Regions from separate parts of the Homo sapiens genome. Here region 1 is linked to region 2. Evidence: fine-mapped expression QTL. A gene starts in region 2. The other region holds a variant in brackets. All regions are shown on one strand. Distances are between the middles of the regions. Region 1 overlaps IL12RB2 (interleukin 12 receptor subunit beta 2). Region 2 holds the start of IL12RB2 (interleukin 12 receptor subunit beta 2).

What was found.
Region 1: its variant is fine-mapped to the expression of IL12RB2 in whole blood (TOPMed, PIP above 0.99).

Annotation. Positions count from the first base shown.
Region 1 is chr1:67,330,885-67,334,884 of GRCh38, forward strand. The region is part of intron 8 of IL12RB2 (interleukin 12 receptor subunit beta 2); the gene reads left to right. Among named protein-coding and RNA genes, the nearest start is that of IL12RB2, 25 kb to the left of the region's middle. The variant T/C (reference allele first, on the strand shown) is at 1,878.
Region 2 is chr1:67,305,216-67,309,751 of GRCh38, forward strand. It overlaps IL12RB2 (interleukin 12 receptor subunit beta 2), which reads left to right and starts at 2,658. Exons shown (of 17, transcript NM_001374259.2): 1 at 2,658-2,752. RefSeq lists enhancers at 1,881-1,980, 2,011-2,060 and a silencer at 2,521-2,710.

The sequences.
Region 1 (4,000 bases), 25 kb after region 2:
TGGAATAGAATCTTTAAACTACTGGTGCTGAATCAAAAAGCATGACTGCATTAGTTAACAAGTTAATTTTTATATTAACTTAAGTGCTGAAACTGTTCAAGGAAATATGTTTGTGTTGCAAGGAAATTTTTAACATTGGGTAAGTTCTACTCCTGTTTGCTATCAGTCATGTTGGTTATAATGCTTGGTTATAACTTATCTCTCTTACTATCTCAGTAACTTATTTCACAGAGCTATAACCAGTAATTAATCTCATTTCTTGTTAAAGCTTCATATGTTTTATATTTTTGATTCTATGAAAAGTAATGTGGCTCAATAAGCCATATGGAAAGCTTGAAAGAAAGTAGGCTCTGGAGACACATATTTCAAAATAAAATTTAGCATCCAGCAATCCTCTCTTGTCCAAATATTATAACACTGTACTTCAAGCCTTTGATATTTACTGCACAAATGAGAACCACCTGGCCACCCATAACTATGAAAAGGATATCAAATGTGTTTTTCAGTCTGATGAATTTTTCTTTTTTAGTAATTATTGGGAAGGGAATGTTATTGAAGTATAAGAAAATATTTTATTGAAGCAAAAATGCCTATGTAAACTTTATGCCAATATTAAATCTTTGGAGACACAAGAAATAGCCATCTGAATATTAGTTTTTAAAAGCACTCATTTAGGCCGGCATGGTCGCTCAGGCCTGTAATCCCAGCACATTGGGAGGCTGAGGTGGGCAGATCACGAGGTCAGGAGTTCGAGACCAGCCTGGCCAGCATGGTGAAATCCCATCTCTACCAAAAAGACAAGAAATTAGCCAAGCATCGTGGTGCGTGCCTGTAATCCCAGCCATTCGGGAGGCTAAGGCAGGAGAATCACTTGAACCCAGGAGGCAAAGGTTGCAATGAGCCAAGATTGTGCCACTGCAATCCAGCCTGGGCAACAGATCGAGACTGCATCTCATAAATAAATAAATAAATAAATAAATGCACTCATTTAGTGATATAGTAGAGAGTCTTTCATAATTTATATAAATTTGACTCAGAGAAAAACTTTTTGGCATATAATCCATTGTTCATTATCTGGAGCTTTTGTAACATTAACGTGCAAAATCTAAATTCTTATTTGTGAAATTTATGGATATGTGTGCATGTAAACTAGCCTCATAATTAAGTTGCATTTATTTTCTGTGAGCTACTAATGGCTTTTGATAACTGATGATCCTTAGCAATCATACATCAATGACATTCAAGGAACGGAAGGGCCTTTAGCAGAATATAATACCTAATATATGATTCATAGAATAATCTTATATTCTTCCTTACTTCTTGTATTAATTGCATTTTTTTTTTTTTTTGAGACAGAGTCTTGCTCTGTCACCCAGGCTGGAGTGCAGTGGCACAATCTCAGCTCAGTGCAACCTCTGCCTCCTGTGTTCCAGTGATTCTCCTGCCTCAGCCTCCCAAGTAGCAGGGATTACATGCATGCGCCACCATGCCCGGCTAATTTTTGTTATTTTCAGTAGAGACAGGTTTCACCATGTTGGCCAGGCTGGTCTCGAACTCTTGACCTCAGGTGATCCACCTGCCTCGGCCTCCCAAAGTGCTGGGATTACAGAATATATTTTAAAAATTGTCTAAAAGTGAATTTATCCAACAAATGATAATTTATTACCACTCATTTTATAATAAAATCTCTTAATGTTGAACCACTTGCCCTCTGGTTGTTACTTTTATAATCCAGAGCTTACTCATAATATCGTTTTATTATATATAGTCAAAGTAATTTTTTTAAAGACTATCTCATGAATTAGATTTTGTTTATATATGTGGTACAGATAAAACTTCTGAAAATGGGCTATATTTTATATCCAAGTTCAAGGTAG[T/C]AAGTAGTCTGAAAAATATTTAAGTTATATCACATTAAGCTAAACTATAAACTAGGGAAACTCTGGGCTTGTGAATTCTTGTCATTCTTACTCACATATGATAATGACCTAGTTAGAGATGTGTGAAAAGGTTTTTCTTTTCTTTTTTAAAAAGTGTTTGTCTTTTGAATTAAAATTCCTTCAAGGCAGCACAGTAACTTTCTTATTTCCTATAAAATAAACCACCATCATAACAATGAGTATAGCAACTCATTATGGTTATGAACTCATGGATGATTATGAATTGAACCTAGGAAGCTGGCTTATTCAGTCACTGAAGGTATTCATAAAGAGAGAAACCCATACTCTGAGATACACCACCTTTACCAAGCTCTGTTGGCTTCCTTTCTGTCTCTGAATCTCCCTTTTCTATGTTTGATTTTTCTGTGGGTTGTTGTAGGTCTTTTTTCTCTTACTCTAGGCTGCTTGGTTTTCACCCCTTACCCGCTGTTTCTGTCATCAGTTTCTTTATGAAACACCAACTGATGTAAACGTAAAAGGTGTGAATTTTTTTTAACACGTCTTCCTTTTAACCCTTTCAATGTGTACTCATATGTAACTTGGCATTTAAAAAAAATTAATAGTAAGCTTTTTTTTTTTTTTTTTTAGGTACTCTCTAAAACTGTGAATGACTCTACAACAGAGTCAGCCTTTTTGCAGCCTTTGCTTCTCAAAATTGAGAGAAATGTAACATCTCCGGGTGGATTGGTGTAGTTGTTTATATCATTTGAACAGTGGGTTAGGGCTTCCTTTACTCCATAGGGCCCTTTACTATGTCATTAAATTCAGCTCCTATCACTGAAAAACACTTTTTAAATGACCGAAAAGTAAGGGATAGGAGGAAAGAAACTACTTTGCTGTGTTTAAGAGAACAGTCTTGAAATCAGCATCCATCAAAGGCAGGCCTGATAGTGACACTGGGAAGAGAGCAGCCACATTTTCCTTGTAGTGGGAAAACATTCTTGAATTTGAGCTCAAGGTGTCCAGACATGCCTGAGAACATGCACAGGTATTGAGGGAAGGTGATCTCTCACCACTTAGAACACCCAGGAAGAGATGCCAAAATACTGATTAATCAGCTATTCCTTAGAGCTATGTTACCAATATGTCTCTGTCTGTTAATCCGCCATTTTAAAAAGTCTTATTTGCAGTTTGTGATCTTGCTCAACTCTATTACAGCTAACAAAGGAATCGTTGCATGTTCATTCGTACTTTGGAGGGGCAGAGTGGTAAAGGAGAAACCTTCCCCCATCATGGTGACAGCAAGGGTGAGGGGTGAATAATCCCTAAAGGGGGAGAAAATGAAGAGTTACCAGCTGCAGCCACCTCTTCCCACATTGAGAAGCTAGGAAATTCATGCACTCATTTGTAATTTAAAAATATTGCCAAGATAAGATAGGTGTGAACAATTAAATACTAGAGATTATTTTGGATAGCAAACATTTGATAACAGTCAAGCTTGGTGGATTGGCAAACATTTTCTCTACAGGTCCAGATAGTAATATTTTCAGCTTTGCGGATCATACGATCTGTCGCAACTGCTAAATGTGCTATTGTCACATGCAAGCTGCCATTGACAATACCTAAACAAACAGGCATGGCTGTGTTCCAACAAAACTTTATTTATGTATGCTGAAATTGGAATTTTATGTAATCTTCACATGTCACTAAAAAGGATTCTTCTTTTGTTTGTTTTGAGACGGAGTCTGGCTCTGTCACCCATGCTGGAGTGCAGTGGTGCGATCTCGGCTCACTGCAAGCTCCGCCTCCCGGGTTCACGCCATTCTCCTACCTCAGCCTCCCGAGTAGCTGGGACTACAGGCACCCCGCCACCACGCCCGGCTAATTTTTTGTATTTTTAGTAGAGACAGGGTTTCACCGTGTTAGCCAGGATGGTCTCGATCTCCTGACCTTGGGATCTGTCTGCCTCAGCCTCCCAAAGTTCTGGGATTACAGGCATGAGCCACCGCGCCCGGCCGGATTCTTCTTTTGATTTCTTTTCAACCATTATCAAAACCATTTTCTTACAGGATGTATTAAAACAGGCAGAGGGCCAGATTTGGCCCATGGGCCGTAGTTTGCTG
Region 2 (4,536 bases):
TCAAAGAATATGCCTTAGATGCATTTGAGACACCATTTTGTGTCTGACTTCTGCAATTTTGTAAGATGCTGCCATTAGAAGTTAATAGAGCAGTGGTCTTTCAACATTTTAGATGGTATACTCCTTCAGAAAAAAAAAAAAAGCATTTTTGAGAAACATCCCCAACATATGTTTGGTTGTTTTTTTATTTCCTTGAAAAACATATGTATGCCGGGCGCGGTGGCTCACGCCTGTAATCCCAGCACTTTGGGAGGCTGAGGTGGGCAGATCACGAGGTCAGGAGTTTGAGACCAGCCTGGCCAATATGGTGAAACCCCATCTCTACTATAAATACAAAAATTAGCCGGGCATGGTGGCGCGTGCCTGTAGTCCCAGCTACTCAGGAGGCTGAGGCAGGAGAATCACTTGAACCCGGGAGGTGGAGGTTGCAGTGAGCTGAAATTGTGCCACTGTACTCTAGCCGGGGCAACAGAGTGAGACGCTGTTTCAAAAAAAAAAAAACAGAAAAACATATGTATATTTATATGTGTGTATATACACACACACACATATGCACACACAAATATATAAATTAAATTTTTAAATGAGATAGAGTAAAATGCATTTTTGAAATTATTGATTTATTAACAAAACTAAAAGCCTTCCTTCTCACTAAAAAGTGTTGAAAAATCCATGAATTATGCAAGATTGTTATAACATTTGGCTATCATAATCTTATTCTTGATATCAATCAGTTTTTAAAGTAATGAGAAGCTGCTGCATTTTTATATTTTTTAACAAATGGATTTAAAATCCACTGAACTGCTCAATTAAAAGATTGAAACAAAATAGCAAATTGTTTCCGAGTTTTTAAAAGCATTTTCTGTGATGACAATCATAAAATCTTCAGTAAGAAAAACACACAATAATGGGAACACTTCGAAATATTTGTTTTCAAATCGTCTCTTCATAACAACGTATCACTTGGTGTGAAAATTACCTTGAAGAAACAACAAATAAACCTCTGGGGTTTTTTGTTCTTCAAAAAGATCTATTAGATAACATGTACTGAGAGCCATATATCAATACAGAAAAGATCAGCAAATTTAGGATATTTGGGGTTTTTTTGTAAAAATAAAGAAAATAACTCACTTTAAGACAACTTTTAAAATCTTTGTTACAAATGATTTCTACAATTATGTATCATCTCATTACAAAGTAATATTAAGATTCTAGATTCTACGATTTAAAAGATTTTAGTAAAATTATTCATGTAGATAAATTACTAAAGCATGTAAACTACAGTATGTCACAATCCCATAAAGACAATCTACTGTACATTGTTGATTCCAAGATGTACATTTTTCATATTTAACATCTCAAACATTGAGAGCGGTTTTAAGGTAATGCCCAGAAGCGTGGTATGCAGTTGTCCACTTCTGCGGGCTCAGCAAACCTGTACTGGGCTCAGTGGACTAGAAGAAAACTCCAGAGACAACGGGGTGGGGGAGGGGGGGGGACTTAAAAAAAAATTCGATAGATAATATACATATGTTTAAAATCTAAATTTTATTTAGAGATATCTAAATAAAATCTCTAAACTAAATAAAATTTTAGTTTAAAAGATTCTAAATGTTGAGAAAGCATTGTTATTGTTTACCTGGCAGTTCTTTTTATTTCTTACTAGCGCATAAATAATGGTATATCTTATAATTAAGGAAGTCTTAGATTTAAAGAAATCTAAGCTGACGGGTGCAGAGGCTCAGGCCTGTATTCCCTGCACTTTGGGAAGCCAAGGCGGGAGGATTGCTTGAGGCCAGAAGTTTGAGACCAGCCTGGGTAACAGAGTGAGAGTCTGTCTTTACAGGTTTAAATACAGTTTTTTTCTAAGTAATATTGTCATAAATATTATGTCATGAATATTATGCAGAGCTGCCGACCCCTCTGTACTCTGGGCAGTTTTCCCTCTTGCCTGAGAACACCACTTATAACACGGGACCTATACGGGAGTGGTGACACGCCATCTGTTCAAGTTTAACTTTTTTCTCATTTTTTAGACAGCAAATACAAATGGAAGTTCCAGTATGTTCTGCCCGCACTCCAGTGGGCGGTCTTGTGCACAGCCCACTTGGGAGGCCTCGGCGCTCAGGTGTGGTAAGAGCTGGGCGGTGCAGAGCACAGAGAAAGGACATCTGCGAGGAAAGTTCCCTGATGGCTGTCAACAAAGTGCCACGTCTCTATGGCTGTGAACGCTGAGCACACGATTTTATCGCGCCTATCATATCTTGGTGCATAAACGCACCTCACCTCGGTCAACCCTTGCTCCGTCTTATGAGACAGGCTTTATTATCCGCATTTTATATGAGGGGAAACTGACGGTGGAGAGAGAATTATCTTGCTCAAGGCGACACAGCAGAGCCCACAGGTGGCAGAATCCCACCCGAGCCCGCTTCGACCCGCGGGGTGGAAACCACGGGCGCCCGCCCGGCTGCGCTTCCAGAGCTGAACTGAGAAGCGAGTCCTCTCCGCCCTGCGGCCACCGCCCAGCCCCGACCCCCGCCCCGGCCCGATCCTCACTCGCCGCCAGCTCCCCGCGCCCACCCCGGAGTTGGTGGCGCAGAGGCGGGAGGCGGAGGCGGGAGGGCGGGCGCTGGCACCGGGAACGCCCGAGCGCCGGCAGAGAGCGCGGAGAGCGCGACACGTGCGGCCCAGAGCACCGGGGCCACCCGGTCCCCGCAGGCCCGGGACCGCGCCCGCTGGCAGGCGACACGTGGTGAGTGACCAGTGACTCGGGGTCGGGGACAGAGAGAGCCCCAGGATCCCGGACCAGCGGGGTGTCTGCGTGCCCGGGATTCCGTGTCTCGCGTCTCCCGAGGGGGCTTCGGCGACGGCTTCTCTCTTTATATATATATATGTATATATATATTTTTAAAGTCTTCCAATACGATCCGAAATGGCTTCTCTTCATCACAGTCCTAACGCCCTGGGCACAGATGTTCACTTGGAGGTACTGGGTGGTGGTTTGGCTGGATGGAGGGGAGGGAGCGCGCGGACTGAGCCTCCAAGGTACTCTCTGGGCCGGGGCACAGAGTGGTGGGCTCAAACGGAAGGGAGGGGACGGCGACTGGAAAAGGGCAGAGGGCACCCCTGAGGGTCCAGCCTTGGTTCAGGCCCACAGACGTGGCTCCCGTTGCTTGAAAATGTATCAAATGTGAGTAAGATATTGGGGGGGGCCTTCCGTAGTCCCGGATGAGGGTGAACTAACCTTGTCTCAGCAGTCTTTCCTGTGGCCTCTGGACTGACCCCGAGTCCCTGCCTGGCCAGTTACTAGCAAGATGCTCTGGTGCAAGCAAATTGGCCAGCCTCAGTTTTCTCTTCTGTGAAATGCCCCTTCCTTTGTGAACTATGAGGCCCTCCTCATCTCCCTAGGACACACTAAATATCAGTGTCAGCATTGTACGGGATTATGTATCTGTACCATTAGATCCAGGTCTTACAAATAGTAACCTAAAAGCATACAAATAGACCTTGTCTAAGAACAGGGTCCCGGCACGGTGGCTCACGCCTGTAATCCCAGCATTTTGGGAGGCCAAGGTGGGCAGATCACTTGAGGTCAGGAGTTCAAGACCAGCCTGGCCAACATGGTGAAACCCTGTCTCTATTAAAAATACGAAAATTAGCTGGGCATGATGACGCACACCTGTAATCCCAGCTACTCGGGAGACTGAGGCAGGAGAATTGCTTGAACCCGGGAGACAGAGGTTACAGTGAGCCAAGATGGGGCCACTGCACTCCAACCTGGGCAACAGAGCGAGACTCTGTCTTAAAAATAAATACATACATACATATACATATATATATATATACACACACACACATACACATATATATATAAAGAATAAAGCTAAATTAGTCCTTTTTTCCCCATTTTTAAAACTCTAGATAATTGTTATAATCTGCTATGTGTGTGCTCTGTGTAGATGAACATCTTTGTTGAGCACCTACTATGTATTTGGTTTTTGGATATATATTATCTAATTCCTTAAAAACATGGTGAAATTGTTATTAGTATTCCCATTTTACAGATGTGGAAACTTACATGTTTCACACAGTTAGAGAGTTACAGGTTTCTGGCTCAAAACTGTGTTCCTTCTGTTTCCACCTCTCTGGCTCAGAACCTTATAACCACCTCCACTTGAACAAACAAACGTTGGATTCTCATTTTCCATTAATAGGAATGGTACAGTGCCCTATTTCTCTGTCCAACACATAACTAAAAGGACCTTAGTGGCTAAGAGCTAACACTTTCCTTCCCTATTTTAATGTGAAATCCTCAATACATTACACTATCTGTTAGGCACAACAGCCTCCAGAAAAGTTTGCAATATGCTCTTTTCCATATGTCATGCCTCTTGAATGTCATGTTCATTACATAGGCTGATAAATTCCCAAACTTTGACAAACGGAATCTTTTCTGTATTAGAATGAGTTTTAGTGTGAAAAAAAATTCGAAAGCACACATGTAATTTTTAAGGTAGAAGAATCCGCCAAGTACAG